Linked DNA regions of Homo sapiens: region 1 is linked to region 2. The links come from fine-mapping of genetic effects on gene expression. A gene starts in region 2. The other region holds a variant in brackets. All regions are shown on one strand. Distances are from middle to middle.

The links. PIP is the estimated chance that this variant, and not a neighbour inherited with it, causes the effect.
Region 1: its variant is fine-mapped to the expression of SLC26A2 in adrenal gland (GTEx, PIP 0.94).

The regions. Positions count from the first base shown.
Region 1 is chr5:149,883,047-149,891,046 of GRCh38, reverse strand. It overlaps PDE6A (phosphodiesterase 6A), which reads left to right. Exons shown (of 22, transcript NM_000440.3): 14 at 4,673-4,782; 15 at 6,180-6,267; 16 at 6,468-6,568; 17 at 7,511-7,618. Among named protein-coding and RNA genes, the nearest start is that of PDE6A, 58 kb to the left of the region's middle. The variant C/G (reference allele first, on the strand shown) is at 3,011.
Region 2 is chr5:149,955,520-149,966,316 of GRCh38, reverse strand. SLC26A2 (solute carrier family 26 member 2) reads right to left here and starts at 5,559. Exons shown (of 3, transcript NM_000112.4): 1 at 5,338-5,559. RefSeq lists a silencer at 5,504-5,623 and enhancers at 6,664-6,743, 6,540-7,143.

The DNA.
Region 1 (8,000 bases), 74 kb after region 2:
GGACTCCTTATGAGTCCACACTTAACATTGGATTTACATCCTTTTAAATACCAATTTCATTTCTCCAATTCAGGTGCATAGCACTGTTTATTAAATAGGTTATCATAGGTAACTTGACTTGGATCAATGTTTGGAGTTCATTAAAATTGTATATCTCACCAATTTCAGTACTGGCTGACTTAGCATAAAAATCTGCCAAATCATTTGTTTTAATTTTCAATTATTTTTTATTCTGCTTAATACTGAGTTAGCAGTTTTATGAACCAGTTTCTTCACTGGAATTCTGGAAATTCTTCCCCAGTCCAATGGTATGATCTTATGAAGAAGAAACACTTTAGGCTTAGAGTTGCTCAGGAAAGTAGCAGAGTGAAAAACCACCTGTGGATGACAAGACTTTACATGGTCATGGTTAAAGATCTCATGAGAGTTCATTACAATAATGACACAATTGACAAGGAAATTTGGTTATTTCCGTTGCAAACATTTTAAGACAATAACTAAAATTGTGACTGATAGTGTTATACCAGGAATACTAGATTTCTATGAATTTTATACAGTTTCTGAAACACATATTAATAACACATCTTTAGAATACAACTTGAAGATTTAGCATTAATTGTATTTGACAATGCTTCCCATATAATTTAATATATAAAATAAGCCTAATTAGTTTAATGTCTCTCTTTTTACAAGAAGAGATATCTTTTTGAGATGTTCTAAGGGTTCATCTGAAAAATTCCAAAGTTAATTTGCAGTCAAGAAAAATACTTAATTTAGAATATGATTTTGGGGCCAGACGCAGTGGCTCATGCCTGTAATCTCAGCACTTTGGGAGACTGAGGTAGGTGGATCATTTGAGGTCAGGAGTTCAAGACTAGCCTGCCCAACATGGTGAAACCCCATCTCTACCAAAAATATTTTAAAAATTAGCCTAGTGTGGTGGTGTGTCTGTAATCCCGGCTACTCAGGAGGGTGAGGCAGGAGAATCACTTGAATCTGGGAGGCAGAGGTTGCAGTGAGTTGAGATCGTGCCACTGCACTCCAGCCTGGACAACAAAGCAAGACTCTGTCTCAAAAAAAAAAAAAAAATGAATATGACTTTGGGAAGTTTCTAAATGCTTGAATTTTTTTTTTTTTTTTGAGACAGAGTCTTGTTCTGTCACCCAGGCTGGAGTGCAGTGGCATGATCTCAGCTCACTGCAACCTCTGCTTCCTGGGTTCAAGCGATTCTCCTGTCTCAGCCTCCCCAGTAACTGGGATTACAGGTGCGTGCCACCGGGCCAAGCTAACTTTTTGTACTTTTAGTAGAGACGATATTTCACCATGTTGCCGAGGCTGATCTCGAACTCCTGACCTCAAGTTATCCGCTTGCCTCAGCCTCCCAGAGTGCTGGGATTACAGGCATGAGCCACTGCATCCAGCCCAAAATAAGATAATTTAGCCTAGTGTGGTGGCATGCGCCAGTAGTCCCAGCTACTCAGGAGGCTGAGATGGGAGGATTGCTTGAGCCCAGGAGGTCCAAACCGCAGTGAGTTTTGATTGCACCAGTGCACTCTAGCCTGGGTGACAGAGCGAGACTCTGTCTCAAAACAAAAATAAAATAAGATAAATAATAAATAAATAAATAAAAATACAGAAAGTTAAATACTTATAGAAAGACCTTAGCTCTTTTAATAAAGAAAACAGTTTTCTTAAGTGATCAAAAACCTAATAAAGGCAACCTGGAGTACAGGAAATTAATTTGGTAAAGCACAGAATCTTTGTTTCCTAGGTCAATTACCTAAAAGATAAATTTCCTGTTAACAGCAGACCAATACTCAAAGAAAATTTGTTGTTTTAAAAGAGAGGTCCAAGTTCTAGTTTTGCATCAGTGTACTTTTGACATCAATGTTCAAGATAGCATTAATTTCAAAATTTTAGAAAAACTTCAAACAATTTTCTTCTGATCTTTTTTTTTTTTTTTTTGAGACAGAGTCTCACTCTGTCGCCCAGGCTGGAGTGCAGTGGCACATCTCAGCTCATTGCAAGCTCTGCCTCCCGGGTTCACGCCATTCTCCTGCCTCAGCCTCCCGAGTAGCTGGGACTACAGGCGCCCGCCACCATGCCTGGCTAATTTTTTGTATTTTTAGTAGAGACGGGGTTTCACTGTGTTAGCCAGGATGGTCTCGATCTCCTGACCTCGTGATCCGCCCGCCTCGGCCTCCCAAAGTGCTGGGATTACAGGCGTGAGCCACCGCACCCAGCCATTTTCTTCCAATCTTAGCCAGCTTCATCACACATACAATTACTTTCACAAGATTTATCTTCCACAAGCCTTCTACAACTTTCTTATCCATTCAACTTTTTCCTATACTTTTTCCTCTTCTCATTTTGGAGTAACCAGTTATCCTACATTAGGACAAAAGTTTCTCTTTTCACCCTTAACAAAATAAAACATCCTCATATCTTATAGCTTTTTCTTACCAAAAGCAGTTTTTGCCCTCTTGTATAATTGCTTATAGAATTGTTTCCCTTATTATTTTATTAATAATATATTAATTATTAGTTATTAATATATTATAAATAACATATTAATTATGTGTTAAGAATTCTAAATAAAGAAATATATATTAATATATGTTAATATATCCTTATATTAATTAGAATTCTTAACCCTTAGTGACCTTAATTTCCAGTGAACACTAGGAAGCAAGCAAAAATTGTGAACTGTCTGTCACACCAGCAATCTGTAGATCAATCGTCTGTGAATAATAATTTCTAGAAGCATGTAGTTCCCCATAGTACAATCTGTCACTGTGGCACAGAAAATTTTTAGTAACAGTCCCAAATATTTTTAGTCTCTTGGTAATAAGAAATTGTAGAGGAGGCAACATTTAATCTCTATCCTCTTAGATCTTTTTTTACTTTTGAGATATGATCTTGCTCTGTCACACAGGCTGGAGTGCAGTGCTGAGAACACACGGCTCACTGCAGCCTTGACCTCCTGGGCTCAAGCGATCCTCCCACCTCA[C/G]CCTCCCACATGTTAGGTTTTGAAGGGAAGGCGAGGGTTAAAGAAAGACACACACACACACACACACAGAAAGAGGGCGGCTCAAGAGCAAATGCAGGCTTTACGCCCAGCATAAAATCTACAGAAGTAGGAACCAGCCTAATGCCAGAGCCCACCGCTGCTTACAGGCTGGTGGTACTTATAGGTATGGGCGGGAGGGGTCTGGGCAGTATGGCTTGTTGCCTGGCAGGCTATTGATAAGATGTTCTCATGATGAGGCGGTTTTGCTTTTGTCTCGGTGGGATGCCATTGTGGTGTTTCTTGGACTTTTGCCCAGCAAGATATGATAGGAATGTTTCTTTAGTTGGGCCTTTGTCTGCCTTGTGGTCAGGTGGTTAGGAAGGCTGTTTCTCCCGACCCAAACCCCCATGAAATGTTTCACTTTGACCAAGGTCTGCAAAATAATGGGGAGCTTACAAAATGGTGCAGTTGGGACTAACACCAGGTAGCCGAGACCACAGGTATGTGCCACCATGTCCACATAAATTTTTAGTTTTGTAGAGACAGGGTCTGGCTGTGTTGCCTAAGCTGATCTTGAATTCTTAGGCTCAAGTGGTCCTCCTACCTTGGCCTCCCAAAGTGCTGCCATGTGTGACCTGCCATGCCTGGCCCTGTCTTATTTTTTGTTTCTTTCATCTTGACTATTCTATGCACCTCATATACAGTGAGGTGAAATCATACAGTATTCGTCCTTTCGTGTCTGGCATATTTCACTTAACATAACATTTTTGAGGCTTATCCATGATACAATTTTGTGGCTGCATAGTGTTCTATTGTTGGACTTGGAAGTCTTTTCAATCTTTCACTATTACAAACAGTGCCACAATATCCTTGGATGGACTTATCTTTGTGTATTTGTGTTCGTATTTTTCACTGAGAGGGTTCGGAGACTTTTATGTTTTATTTCAAGTTATTTCCCCATCCAGATCATGATGCAAATCCCTGCCCTTCCTCAACATCATCCCTTCCCCCTTGGCTGAAATGGTCAGGCCAGAGTAGGTGCTAGGGCCCGGAAGCAGGAATTCTGACCAGGCTACCTTAAAGGGTGACAGGAACACCACTTAGAGTGATTGCTTTCATAAAGTCAGCATCAGCTCTCCAGAGCACTTTCCCACATTTGGTTTCAACACCCAGCATCAACAAGGAGTTAAGTGTCTGGCAAAATCCCAGGGAAGGATTCCTCCAGGCTGTGCTTAAACCAGTAGACCACGTTTGGAAGATTTGCTTTACCAGCCTGGCCATGTTCAGAAACTCTCCAAATCCTAAAACCTGACTTCTACAAGTTTCTCAAAATTCATCTGATCCAATATGCTCGACCCTCATTATGGAGATTGGGCTACCGAGGTTCAGAGGGAGATGAGACCAGCTAAGGTCAACTCAGAAATAGGGTGACCAGTTGTTCCCATTTACCTGGGACTTTCCCCATTCTAGCACTGAAAGTCCCATATCCAAAAAACCCCTCAGCCCTGGGCAGTCCTCTGGTCAGCCTCTGGAGCCAGGATACAGCCAAGATCAGACCCATGAGTTTTTTAGTTCTGGGCCCTCCTCCTTACACCCGCCTTTTCAGCCCTGCTTCCAGCCCCTACACAAAAGGAATGATTTGCACTCTGATTGCCCTTCCAGACGGGAAAGCTGAAGCGCTACTTCACGGACCTAGAGGCCTTGGCCATGGTCACTGCTGCTTTCTGCCATGACATTGACCACAGAGGCACCAATAACCTCTACCAGATGAAGTGAGTCAGCCTCCCTCCCCACACCCAACCCTCCGGATTCATTATCCAGCTCTGTGTGGCTCCCAGGCAGACTCACTGGCCAACAGGGAAGTCTTGTGGTCCACAGCTTCCCACCGCCTTCTGCCCTTGGGATCCGGGTCTCCTCCTGTAGCAGGCAGAATAATGACCACCACAAAGATGTCCAGATCTCAAATCCCTGAGCTGGGGAATATGTTGCCTTACATACAAAAGGGACTGTGCAGATGTGATTAAGTCGAGGATCTTGAGATACAGGGATTATTCATTCGAGTGGGCCCCATGTAGTCCCAATGGTCCTTATAAGAGGGAAGCAAGAGGTCAGAGAGGAAAGAAGATGCTACCCTGCTGGCTTTGAAGATGGAGGCATGGCCTACAAGCAAGGAATGCAGGTGGCCTCTAGAAGCTCAAAAGAGCAAGGAAACGGATTCTCCTCTGGAGCTTCCAGAAGGAAAGCAGCCCTAAGGACCCATTTCAGACTCCATACAGAGCTGTAAAATAATAAATTTTATTGCTTTAAGCCATTAAGTTTGTGGCAGTTTGTTATAGCAGCCATAGAAAATGAATGCATTAAACTCCTGTACTTGTCTCCTTCCTTGTCCTACCTGCTGCACTAATTTGAGCCAAGATGTTAATAACCAGTAATGGTTCATTCACTCATCTCGTATTTACAGTGCTTCTAATATAGTGTGGTAGGCTCTATGCCAGGCAAAAAAGGTGCTCTGATGAGCAAAACAGCTCCTGTCCTTACAGAGCTTATATTTCAGACAGCCCATAAAGCATAGTCCTTGAACCATGATCTCATTGGATCCTCACAACCACCCAGTGGGCTGGGCAGAGCAGGGGCTAATGTTATCCCTACTTACAGATGAGAAAACTGAGTCTCCGCTCAGGGCCGATGGCCTGTAAGTCATTAACAAGCTCTGAATTCATGCTGCTGAGTCTTCTCAATACTTTCATGCTGCTCTGGGGCTAGAGATTGGGTTTACATTTTACATTTTGAGAATCTAAATACTTAGCACAGTGTGTGGCACATAGCAAGTGCTCAACAAATAATTATTGAATGCAGAAATGAATAAATACACGGCTTGCGGAAATTCAGTTGTTTCCTTCAAGACTTGGATGTGAAGAATCAGGGCTAGATGATCTTGAAGCATGGCCCAGTGCTAATGTCCCTAAAATCCCTTATGGCATTGTGTGTGTTTGTGGCTTTCTCTGGGGAAGGGGTCCATGCTATTTAGTAGATTCTCTAATGAGTTCACGACCCAAAAGTAACTCGGAATCACTTGTGGAGAAGGCTGAAGACTGAGTCAGGAGACTTGATGTTTAGTCCTAATTTTCTATTGTCCACTCCATATTGATTCTCTCTCTTTCTCATTCAGATCCCAGAACCCACTGGCCAAGCTCCATGGGTCCTCTATCTTGGAAAGACACCACTTGGAGTTTGGCAAAACACTGCTCAGAGACGAGGTAGGATGAGGGCCAAGGGTCTACAGGCCGCGGGGCCTGGATCAGAGGCTCTATTTCACAAGGAGCCTGAGTGTGCCCAGGGAGCATTCTTCCCATTGGCCTGGGCTGCCTCTGCCATCATCTGGGGTGGCCATTGGTAGGTGGGTGACTTTACTGCCAGCATCAATTCTCTCCCATCTCGCTTCTCTTTTTTTCTTTAGAGCCTGAATATCTTTCAAAACCTCAATCGTCGACAGCATGAGCATGCCATCCACATGATGGACATTGCAATCATTGCCACAGACCTCGCCCTGTATTTCAAGTTGGTATATCTTCTCATTCTAATAGTAAAAGCAACAATGATTATATGTATGCATATATATATATACACACATATATATACATATATACACATATATATACACACATATATACATATATACACATATATACACACATATATATACATATATACACATATATACATATATACACATATATACATATATACACATATATACACATATATACATATATATACACATATATATACACATATATCTACACATATATATGTGTGTGTGTATATATATATATATATTTTTTTTTTTTCTTTTTTGAGACAGGATCTCACTCTGTTGCCCAGGCTAGAGTGCGGTGGCACCATCACAGCTCACTGCTTCCTGGGCTCAAGGGATCCTCCCACCTCAGCCTCCTGAGTGGCTGGGACTACAGGAACACCACCACTCCTGGATAATTTTTTAATTTGCTGTAAAGATGGGTTCTCACTATGTTACCCAGGCTGATCTAAAACTCCTGGTCTCAAGCCATCCTTCTGCCTCAGCCTCCCAAAGTATTGGGATTACAGGCATGAGCCACTGCACCCAGCAACAATATAATAACAATAATAATAACAAACATCATAGTTCCAATTAATTTAGCATATACTATGTGTCAGGCACAACACGTGTGTTATGGACACATTGATTCTTGCTACAAGCCTGTGAGTTAGATATCATTACCCCCGCTGTACAGATGGGAACACTGAGATTCAGGACAAGAGATTTGCTAAGAGTAGATAACAAATCAGTGGCAGAGACTTAGGTTAAACCTAGGTCTTCACTCCTGGGCCTTGGCTCTTTCAACCTTGTTTTGTGAATTTTGTTGATTTAATAAGGCTCCATCTGAATCAGCCAATGTTAGCAGCTCAGGTGTTGCCTTATTCTAAGACTTGCTCCCTTTACTAGACTGATATGTTTTGTAGGAAGAGGACGATGTTCCAAAAGATCGTGGATCAGTCTAAGACATATGAGAGTGAACAGGAGTGGACACAGTACATGATGCTGGAGCAGACACGGAAGGAAATCGTTATGTGAGTTGGGATGGGGTTAAAACCTGATCCTCTTAGGCTTAGGATCATGAGGCGAGATGCACTGACAGCTCTTGCTGCCCTCAACAAGCCTTGGGACTATTTCATTTTGGAGGCCTTCAACATATGAAAAAAATGAAGTTATGCCAAATTCCAATTGCACAAGCCACATGTTTAATCTTTATTTTAGCACTAAAAATGCAAGACAGTGTATTATTGTTTTATTTATCTGAATAAAAAAATATGTTATTTGAAGTAGTTCAATCATAATATCTAAGATTTGGGTGGTAAACTGATATAACTTTTAAGTTTTTGATACAACGGAAAGCACTATAGCAATTAAGGGGTTTTTGTTTTGTTTTGTTTTTTGTTTTGAGACAGAGTC
Region 2 (10,797 bases):
ACTAAATGATCAAATCATTAAGTGGTAGTTTTCCTGAATTACAGGACTTTAGAGCTAGACAGAGATCAAGAAATCCAACCGCCATGATTTTTTGGTAAGAAATAAGAGTTCAGCTGGGTACCAGTGGTTTACAACTATAATCTCAGCACTTCGGAAGGCCGAGGCATGCGGATCACTTGAGCTCAGGAGTCCAAGACCAGCCTGGCCCACATGGTGAAATTCTATCTCTACTAAAAATCCAAAAATTAGCCAGGCGTGGTAGCACATGCCTATAATCCCTGCTACTTGGGAGGCTGAGGCACAAGAATCACTTGAACCCAGGAGACAGAGGTTGCAGTGAGTTGAGATTGCGCCACTGCACTCTAGCCTAGGTGACAGACAAGACTCTGTCTCAAAAAATAAAATAAAATAAATAAATAAAGGTTCAGATTAGTGAAATCATTTGCTACTTAAAGGCAGAGATGGATCCAGAACCCAAGTATCCTGACTCCTAACCTTTTTCCTCTAATAGATTGCCTATGCCAGTCTCTGTAAGTGTATATACATCAGATAATTACAGGAAAACTAGAGTCGACCTAAAAACAACCTAAAGATCTCAAGTTTGTGGAAAACCTGAAGTCTTAACATTAACCCAGCATTAATGTGAACAAGTCAACAACCAAAGTAAGTCTCCTCTCTTATATGGAAAAATCTCAGACTAGACTGGTAAGAGCTACAGTGTAAGAAAAAAAAATAATTAAAAATATATTTTTAATAAAAATAAACTAGACTAGAATATGTAGTTTAGAAATAATTTTCCAATACTTCACACAGCTTTTTTTTTTTTTTTTTTTTTTTGAGACAGAGTCTTGCTCTGTTGCCCAGGCTGAAATGCAGTGGTGTGATCTCGGCTCACTGCAACCTCCATCTCCCAGGTTCAAGCGATTCTCCTGCCTCAGCCACCTGAGTAGCTGGGACTACAGGCGCCTGCCACCATGCCCGGCTAATTTTTGTATTTTTAGTAGAGACAGGGTTTCACCATGTTGGCCAGGATGGTCTCATCTCCAGACCTTGTGATCCGCCTGCCTCGGCCTCCCAAAGTGCTGGGATTACAGGCGTGAGCCACCGCGCCCAGCCACACACAGCTTGTAAGTAGGGGAATCATGACTTGAACAAGCCTGCCTGATTCAAACGTATACTGTCGCTTGATTGCTTATTTTGAAGCTGTTTTTAAATCTTCAGAAAAGTTGAAAGAATGATACATGGAACACTTCCATACTAACAATTCACCTATTTAGCAATTTTACAGTTCATAAGATGTTAACACACTCTCTCTCCATACTTATATGGGTTTTGTCATTATTGTTTTTCAACTATTTGAAAGTTGCAGGCATAGTTCAGCCTTAAACACTTTATTGAACCTACATTTAAAAAAAATTTTTATTTTGAAATAACTGTGGACTTGCAGAAAAGCTGTAAAAATAGTACACAGTTCCTGTATAATGGTCACTCAGTTTCCTCTAATATTGAACCTACATTTTTTTTTTAATTTTTTATTTTTGAGACAGAGTCTCACTCTGTTGCCCAGGCTGGAGTGCAGTGGCACAATCTTGGCTCACTGCAAGCTCCTCCTCCTGGGTTCATGCCATTCTCCTGCCTAAGCCTCCCAAGTAGCTGGGACTACAGGTGCCCGCCACCACACCTGGCTAATTTTTTGTATTTTTAGTAGAGACAGAGTTTCACCGTGTTAGCCAGGATGGTCTCGAGCTCCTGACCTCGTGATCCGCCCGCCTCGGCCTCCTAAAGTGCTAGGATTACAGGCGTGAGCCACCACGCCTGGCTATTTTTTATTTTTATTTTTGAGATGGGGTCTCACTCTGTTACCCAGGCTGGAGTGCAGTGGCATGATCTCAGCTCACTGCAACCTCCACCTCCTGGGCTCAAGCGATCCTGAGTAGCTGGGATCACAAGTGCACGCCACCATGCCCAGCTATTTTTTTGTATTTTTTGTAGAGACAGGTTTTCGCCGTGTTGTCCAGGCTGGTCTTGAACTCCTGAGCTCAAGTGATCTGCCTGCCACGGCCTCCCAAATTGCTGGGATTATAGGCATGAGCAAAGGAAGAGCCCAGCCTGAACCTACATTTTTAAAGCACTATGCCTCTTCTTCAAAAGAAGCATTCATTAGCAAGATGAGGTCAACCATTTGGATATGCTCCCCAAAAATCTGCACTGGCTCCCTATCTCCTACCAAATATGGTCTAAAAACATTGGTATAAGCTTCTATGCATGAGCCTAAAACTGCCACTGTCTTGCTTCCTCCTATGCACTAGTGTTCCAATCACCAGTCCATGAAAATATCAAGCAGCCTTTGCCCTTGGGGCCTTTGCTCATTGCCCAACCTCAAATGACACCTTATATAAATCGGTCCCTTCCTAGATACAATATATAAAACAGAGGCCAGGCACAGTGGTTCATGTCTGTAATCCCAGCGCTTTGAGAGGCCAAGGCAGGAAGATCACTTTGAGGCCAGGAGTTCGAGACCAGCCTGGGTAACATAGCAAGATCTTGTCTCCACAAAAAAAAAAAAAAAAAAAAAAAAGTTAAACAAATATGCAAAATAGCAGGCCGGGTGCAGGGGCTCATGCCTGTAATCCTAGCACTTTGGGGGGCCAAGGCAGGTGGATCACCTGAGGCCAGGAGTTCGAGACCAGCCTGGCCAACATGGTGAAACCCCCTCTCTACTAAAAAATACAAAAAATTAGGCCAGGCGCGGTGGCTCACGCTTGTAATCCCAGTACTTTGGGAGGCGGAGGCAGGCGGATCACGAGGTCATGAAATTGAGACCATCCTGGCCAACATGGTGAAACCCCGTCTCTACTAAAAATAAAAAGATTAGCCGGACGTGGTGGCACATGCCTGTGGTCCCAGCTACTCAGGAGGCTGAGGCAGGAGAATCACCTGAACCTGGGAGGCAGAGGTTGCAGTGAGCCAAGATCACGCCACTGCACTCCGGCCTGGAGACAAAGTGAGACTCTGTCTCAAAAAAAGAAAAAAAAAAAAATTAGCCAGGCGTGGTGGCATGTGCCTGTAATCCCAGCTACTTGGGAGGCTGACAAAGGAGAATCACTTGAACCCAGGAGGCAGAGATTGCAGTGAGCCAAGATGGCGCCACCGCACTCCAGCCTGGGCAACAAGAGTGAAACTCCATCTCAAAAAATAAATAAATAAATAAATAAATAAATAAATAAATAAATATAGCACCACTGCCATTGCTGCCATTTCCATGTCTTCCTCCTGGGCCCAGCCCTGCCTTGCACTCCTATGCCCTTTATTTTTCTCCATAGCTCTTCTCACCATTCCATACCACACATTGTTAATTGTCTTTCACATGAGGGCACTGACTTGCTCTGTTTTGTTCAAAGCTGTATTCTCAGTGTCTTGAACATGTCTTGCACCTAATAAATGCTTAGCAAGTATCTGTTGAGTGAATTAGAATTTAACAGCTATATGATAAGGAAAAAGGAGTTACTTTCCCCATTCTCACTTAACTCTCCAACCCCACTCTTCCGCCCCCACATGCCAAAACCAAGCTTATGTCAAGAAATTAAGCTTGGCAAGCATCTGCCTGGGGGTTTACATTCACTAAAAGCGTGATTATCCTTCTGTCAATCATGGGGGAAAATAAAAAATAAAAGTGTGGGCAGGGCACAGTGGCTCATGCCTGTAATCCCAGCACTTTGGAAGGCCAAGGCAGGAGGATTGCTTGAGCTCAGGAGTTTGAAACCTGACTGGGCAACATGGTGAAACACCATCTCTACAAAAACTACAAAAACTAGCCAGGTATGGCAGCGTGCACCTGTGGTTCCAGCTACTCAGGAAGCTGAGGTGGAAGGTTTGCTTGAACCCACGAGGTCAATGCTGCAGTGAGCCTAGATCGCGCCCCTGCACTCCTAGCCCGGATGACAGAGTAAGACCTGGTCTCAAAAAAAAAAAAAGTCAAATCAGAAATTAAAAAAAAGTGATTTTTTTCCCTCAAAAATTACCCCTAGCCCAGAGTATGTTCACCTCTAGATCTTCCCCTAGGAGGCAGCACATTACAGTACAATAATTGTCAAATACAGAGAGCCGTTAGCTTCTTAGGACCATCCCTGCAAATCCAAGGATGAGATCCAGGACTCCACACGCTAGATGATGCTGAACGAGTGAGCTTAGGACCACACTTGGAGAATCACTGGATGTGTTCTGGAAGTCAAACAGATCTCTGTTCAGATCCCAGCTATACTGCTCAGCAGTCATATGGCAATGGTTTTGTAAAACTTCACTGTACTCAGCATCAATTTCTGACCTGTAAAATGGGGTAACATTACCTAACTTGCTGGTTTGTAAGGCTAACACAACTACCTACCACAGTGCCTGGCACATAGCATTTACTCAATAAACGACAGCTATTAGTCTCTGTCCCTTGCTATATCCTGCCTTGAGATTCCTGATTTTAAAGGGTCCATTCCTTTCCCACAGCTTTGGCCCTCCATTTCTTATTGATTCAATTTTCAAAAACAAAAAGTTCTGCTTAATCTAGTATTGCATATCACATTAGTTGTAGATTTCACATAAAGAACTGTTGGGGACAAGGAGAAAAGACAGGTTAACTAGAATGGGCGCCGGAAGGCAATTTAAGTTCTGAATGTTTCTAACTCACTGTGATCCCCAATCTGTGCAAGGAAGGAGCCCAGGCTGATAGTCTATGAGTTTGGAGAGCTGGGTACAAGTCCTAGCTCTGCAAAAGACTTGCTGTGTATTTTTAGGCAAGGCTCTGGGCCCTCTCTGTCTTCTCAGTGTTTCCATCCATCCAGTGAAATAATACCAACTTAGTGTGTGAGTCCGAAAGAACAGGTCCTGATTTTGTACTTAATCGGGTGTGTGATTTTTAATAACCAAGATAACCAAGCCGTCTCGCCTGTGCCGGCCTCAGTTTCCCCATCTGTCCGAGGTGGTGGTGGCTCCTATCTCCTCGATCCCTATTCCAGATATCTAGGTTCGAGACGGATCAACGAGGACTGGAAAAGCAGCGGAGTGCGTGGCACCCGGCGAGATACGGCGAGATACGCGGGATGGAGGGCGGGTGGGCAGCCGCCAGCCAGACGGGCAGGCCCGGATCACCAGGGTGCAGTGCCACTCGCCCGGCCCCGGACCACCCGGGAAATAACCTGACGCACGCCCCGCTCCACGGCGGCGACCCCTGATCTGGGATTCTACCGCGCGGGGACCCAGGCAGAATGACTCTGGGAGGGGCCCGCTGACCGCTTGGCGGCCAGCACCGCTCCCTCCCTCTTCCCTGGTCCGCTTCCCTCTTCTCACCTCTCGGGTCCGGGCCGCTGCAGGCAACCAGGCGCCGCGGCACGCGTCTTCCACCGTGGCCTGACTGAGGTGGACACCGCGGCGCCGACAGAGCTATACCTGCCTGTCCCTTTCCCCGCCCATCGCTCGGACTCCGAAGGAGGCGGGGCCCGGCTGCCGGGACCTACGGGCGCGGCGAGGACGCACCGGCGAAGAGATGCCGGAGGCAGAGCCAGTGTAAACGCCCGCGGCCGAGGCCGTCACGTGGTACTGCCGGGCGAGCGACGCTACCACCAGCCAATAACTCGGCCCAGACCGGGGAGGGTGCCGCCCTCTGACTACTCTCCTCCTCGCGATTGGCTGCCCTGGACAGAAGAGCACAAGCTGGAAGGATTCTTAGAGAGGTTCCGCCGCTGCTTCCGTGGCGTTGACTCCTCCGCGGAGAGAGCGGATGACCGGCCTCGGCGGCTAGCCTGTGGCCAGGGTGAAATAGCAGGAGAGGCGCGGAAGCGCTCTGCCCAGAGTTTTGAAGTGCTCAGCGTTTGCGATCGGCCACCTCTTTATCCAGTACTACTTGGGACCCCGTTCCCTCCCACCCGCCTTTGTAGAACGGGAAATTGAGGCCCCGAACGGGAAAAGAGCTCCTAGAATGTTAGAGGCTCTTGCCTCACTATAACTCATTCCCCATCAAAGATTCCAGTAACCGGAAGGCTAAAATGTAAATTAAAAGGCCGGGCGCAGCGGCTCACGCTTGTAATCCCAGCACTTTGGGGGACCGAGTAGGGAGGATCGCTTGAACCCAGGGGTTCGAGATCAACCTGGGCAGTATAGCCGAACCTTGTCTCTATAAAACATAAAATGTAAATTAAAATGTAATTGTAGTTTTTGTTAAAATCCTTAGTGGGTTTAATGGCATTTGTAGGTAAAATCAAACCCTCCCTATGCCAAGGTACTGTGTGCTTCGGGCACTCATCTCTGCCCCCCTCCCTCGCTGATCTCCACCCATACTGGCCCCCTTTGCTCGCCACGCTTGTTCTCTTTAGGGACCTAAACATTGGTTCTGGCCATCAGATTTCTTCTGGTCTCTCAGGTCTCAGCCAAAACACCAGCCCTCTCCATGGCGAGGCCGTCCCTGACCACCCTGTGTAAACTAGCCACAGCCAGTCACATCCTTTCAGGTCATCTTGATTTAATTATCTGCCTCGAACTGGCCACTATTGAGTATGTATTAATTTGTTCATTCCTCACCTTGTTTGTAGCTTGCATGTGCCCACTAGATGGGGGTGAAGGAGGGCCTGTGAAGGAAGCATGATTAACTTCCTTTCCTTCCCTTTCCGGTGAACGTCTTCACAGTCATTCAAGGAACTCCCTTTCTTATCTAGAGATGATCCCCAAGTTTCTGTCACCCATCAGATTCAGAGTTTCCAAAACGTCATAAGCTGTCTTGGGAATCAGAACACAAACACTTGGGTTCTACTCCTGATGCTGCCCCTTGTGGCTGAAGACAAATCATTTCACCTCAATGGGCATCAATGTTTTCACCTTTCAAAGGGTAGTTAATGCCCTAGCACCCAGAGTCCTGGAGAGGGTCAGGTAAGGCAATCAGTGTAAAGTACTTTGTTTAAGCCCTAAAGACTGCACAACAAGCAGAATAAACAGTTTCTGGATGTTTATCACGTGCCTGCGCAGAACTCTTCACATTCATTACATGAGTTAATCCTCACAACAGCTTTAGAGGAGGTGCCATATTATGATTCTTCTTTTTTTTGGTGAGGAAATGAGGCTCAGAGATGTTAGGTGATCTGCCCAACGTCCCACAGTTAATAAGTGACAGTAGCATGATTTTAACACAGTCACGTCTGACTGCAAAGCCCACTCTTAACCACTACACTCACTGTGCTATGCAAATGCAAGAATCCACTCCAATCCTTGCAGCTGACATTTATTCATTTATTTGTTTGTTTTCTTGTCTGTGTGGGGAAGCCAGGACCTTGCATATAACAGGCACCAATAAAGATTGGCCAAATTTGGCCGGGCATGGTGGTTCATGCCTATAAGCCACTTGAGCTCAGGAGTTAGAGACCAGCCTGGACAACATGGTGAAACTCCAACTCTACCAAAAATAGAAAAAAGTAGCCAGGCATGGTAGCATGTGCCTGTAGTCCCAGCTACTCAGGAGGCTGGGGTGGGAGGACAGCTTGAGCCCAGTAGACAGAGGTTGCAGTGAGCCGAGATCGTGCCACTGCACTCCGGCCTGGGTGACAGAGTGAGACCCCATCTCAAAAATAAAAACAAAAGCAAAAATAAAAAACCAGACCAGTCAAATTTAATACTGCCTATCATTCTTTGATTTTATTTCATACATATTCATCTGCATCACAGACGAAGAAATTGGGGCTCAGAATAGTATTACTTACCAAGTTTATTCAGCTAACAAGCAGTAGATTTTGAGATGGGATGGAGGTGGATTTTGACCTGGGAGCTGTGACATGCCAGCACCCAAGAACATGCAAGCTATGGCCCGGGGCCAGGAGAAGGTGCTAGTAAAGAAGCTTTAGGTTGGCCATTGGTGCCTCTCTGCCTCCTAGTTCAGCATCCCTGGCTGCTGTTTACTGTTGTGGTCCCTCGCTGATCTCCACACACACATCCCAAGGAGCTCCATGGAGCCAGACTTTGGTCTGCCATGCTACTTTCCCTTCACCGATGTTCCAGTGCTCCACAACAGGAATCAAAGGCAGCGGGTGGAGGGGTGGGGTGGGGGGTGGGGGTGAATAACTAAATCCCTGCTACTGGAAAGCTGGCCAATAATTAGCTTTTCCTCGATGACATCACATCAGCAGCACTTGGATCTCTTTACGCCTCCTAGCCTGGGCATTTTTTCCCTCCTGTTGGTCTCAGGGTTCACAGAGGTGACTGGCAGCCGGAGGGCCACATTTTATAGCCATTACTCTTCCCAAACAGCTTTTCCAAAGCGTAACTAATGATGTATGCACTGGAGGCATGGTGGGCCAGCAAATAAGTCCTTTCAGGTTGGGGCCACTTCAGGATTTACCTCCTCAGCATTCCTGACCACCCATTCTTCCCAGGTGGGACTAGTCACTTCCTCTGAGGCCCCACTGGACCTTGAACTCCCACTGGATTCCCACTATTGAATGAACTATTCCTAGTGTGCTATTCAGGCTTCATTTTCACTGCTATAAGTGTCTTTTTTTTTTTTTTTTTTTTTTTTTTTAAGAGACAGGGTCTTGCTCTGTCACCCAGGCTGGAGTGCAGTGGCGCAATTATAGATCCCTCTAACCTCGAACTGCTGGACTCAAGTGATCCTCCCACCTTAGCCTCCTGAGTGTCTAGAACCACAGCCGAACGCCACCACACCCAGCTAATTTTTTATTTTTTTGTAGAAATGGGGGTCTCCCTATGTTGCCCAGCCTGATCTCAAACTCCTGGCCTCAAACTCCTGGCCTGAAGTGATCCTCCTACCTTGGCCTCCCAAAGTATTGGGATTACAGGCATGAGACACCATGCCTGGGCCATTTTACTTTTTTGCAAAACATTTTGTAAAATGTTAGCTTGATTGTTCTTGGAAATAGGTAACACAAAGTAAACAAATTAAAAAGGTCAAGGGTTTACAGTAAAAAGTAAATCTTCCTCATAGCCTATTCTTACCCTGGTGTACCTTTCTAGAGGCAAACACAGCACCCATTTTCCTGTGTTGCTTTCCAGGTTTATTCTATACCAGCAGTTCTCAGTTCTGCACAAGGTCAGGAGTTCGTGACCAGCCTGGCCAACATGGTGAAACGCTGTCTTTACTAAAAATACAAAAAATTAGCCGGGTGTGGCAGTGGGTGCCTGTAATCTCAGCTACTCAGGAAGCTGAGGCAAGAGAATCACTTGAACCCAGGAGGTGGAGGTTGCAGTGAGCCGAGACTGCAACATTGCACTTCAGCCTGGGCAACAAGAGCAAAACTCCATCTCAAAAAAAAAAAAAGAGTCTCTTGGGGAACTTTTAAAAAAATGGTAATGTTTAGGTCCTACTACCAGATATACTTTTATTGGTATTGACTCAGACATTGATAGTTTTTAAAAGCCTGCCATGCAGCCATAAAAAAGAACAAAATCACGTCCTTTGCAGCAATATGGGTGGAGCCGAAGGCCATTATCCTAAGAAAAACAACTCAGAAACAGAAAACCAAAGACACATGTTCTCACTTATAAGTGGGAACTAAACAATGGGTACATAAGATCATAAAGATGGAAATTACAGATACTGGAGACTCCAAAAGAGGAGCACGAGGGTTGAAAAATTACCTGTCGGGGCTGGGCGTGGTGGCTCACGCCTGTAATCCCAGCACTTTGGGAGGCCAAGACGGGTGGATCACCTGATGTCAAGAGTTTGAGACCAGCCTGGCCAACATGGTAAAACCTCGTCTCTACTAAAAATACAAAAATTAGCCAGGCGTGGTGGCGGCCACCTGTAATCCCAGCTACTTGGAAGGCTGAGGCAGGAAAATCACTTGAACCCGAGGGGCGGAGGTTACAGTGAGCCCAGATCATGCCACTTTACTCCAGCCTGGGCTAAAGAGTGAAACTCTGTCTCAAAAAAAAAAAAAGAAAAATTACCTGTTGGGTACAATGTTCACTATTTGAGTATTTGGGTATTGGGTACACTAGAAACCCAATTCCCTCCAGTATGTATATACCCATGTAACAAACAAGCACATGTACACCCTGAATCTAAAATAAAAATAAATTTTAAAAATAAAAGATAAAAAAAGCTATCCAGGATATTCTTTTTTTCTTTTTCCTTTTTTTTTTTTTTTTTTTGAAAGAGGGTCTCACTCTGTTGCCCACGCTGGAGTACAGTGGTGCAATCATGGCTCACTGCAGCCTCAACTGCCCCAGGCTCAGGTGATCTTTCCACCTCAGCTTCCCAAGTAACTGGGACTACAAGCATGTGCCACCACACCTGGCTAATTTTTGTATTTTTTGTAGAGGTGGAGTCTTGCTATGTTGCCCAGGTTGGCCTTGTACTCCTGACTCAAGCAATCCTCTCACCTTGTCCTCCCAAAGTATTGGGATTACAGGTGTGAGCCACAGCTCCCAGCCCCACTAGAGATTCTAAGCACACCTAGGTTGGCAAACCACTATTGTATGCATATATAAGACTCTCCCTATATATTTTTTAAACAAGAAGGGCATAGAATACATACCATTCTGTTGCTTTTTAAAAATTATGTGGTGAAGATTATTTTATATCAGTGCATACAGAGCTGCTTTCTCTCTATTGCTGAATAAATCACTCCAAAAGGTAGAAGCTTAAAGCAACAATAATCTTTTTATTTTTTTCTCAGTTTCTGTGGGTCAGGAATTTGGCAAAGGCTTGCAGGGTGGTTCTGGCTTGGGATCTCTCAGAGAGATGCAATGTGACTCTAGATAGTGGCTAGAGTTGGGACAGAATCGGGGCTAGAGCAGCTGACTGCC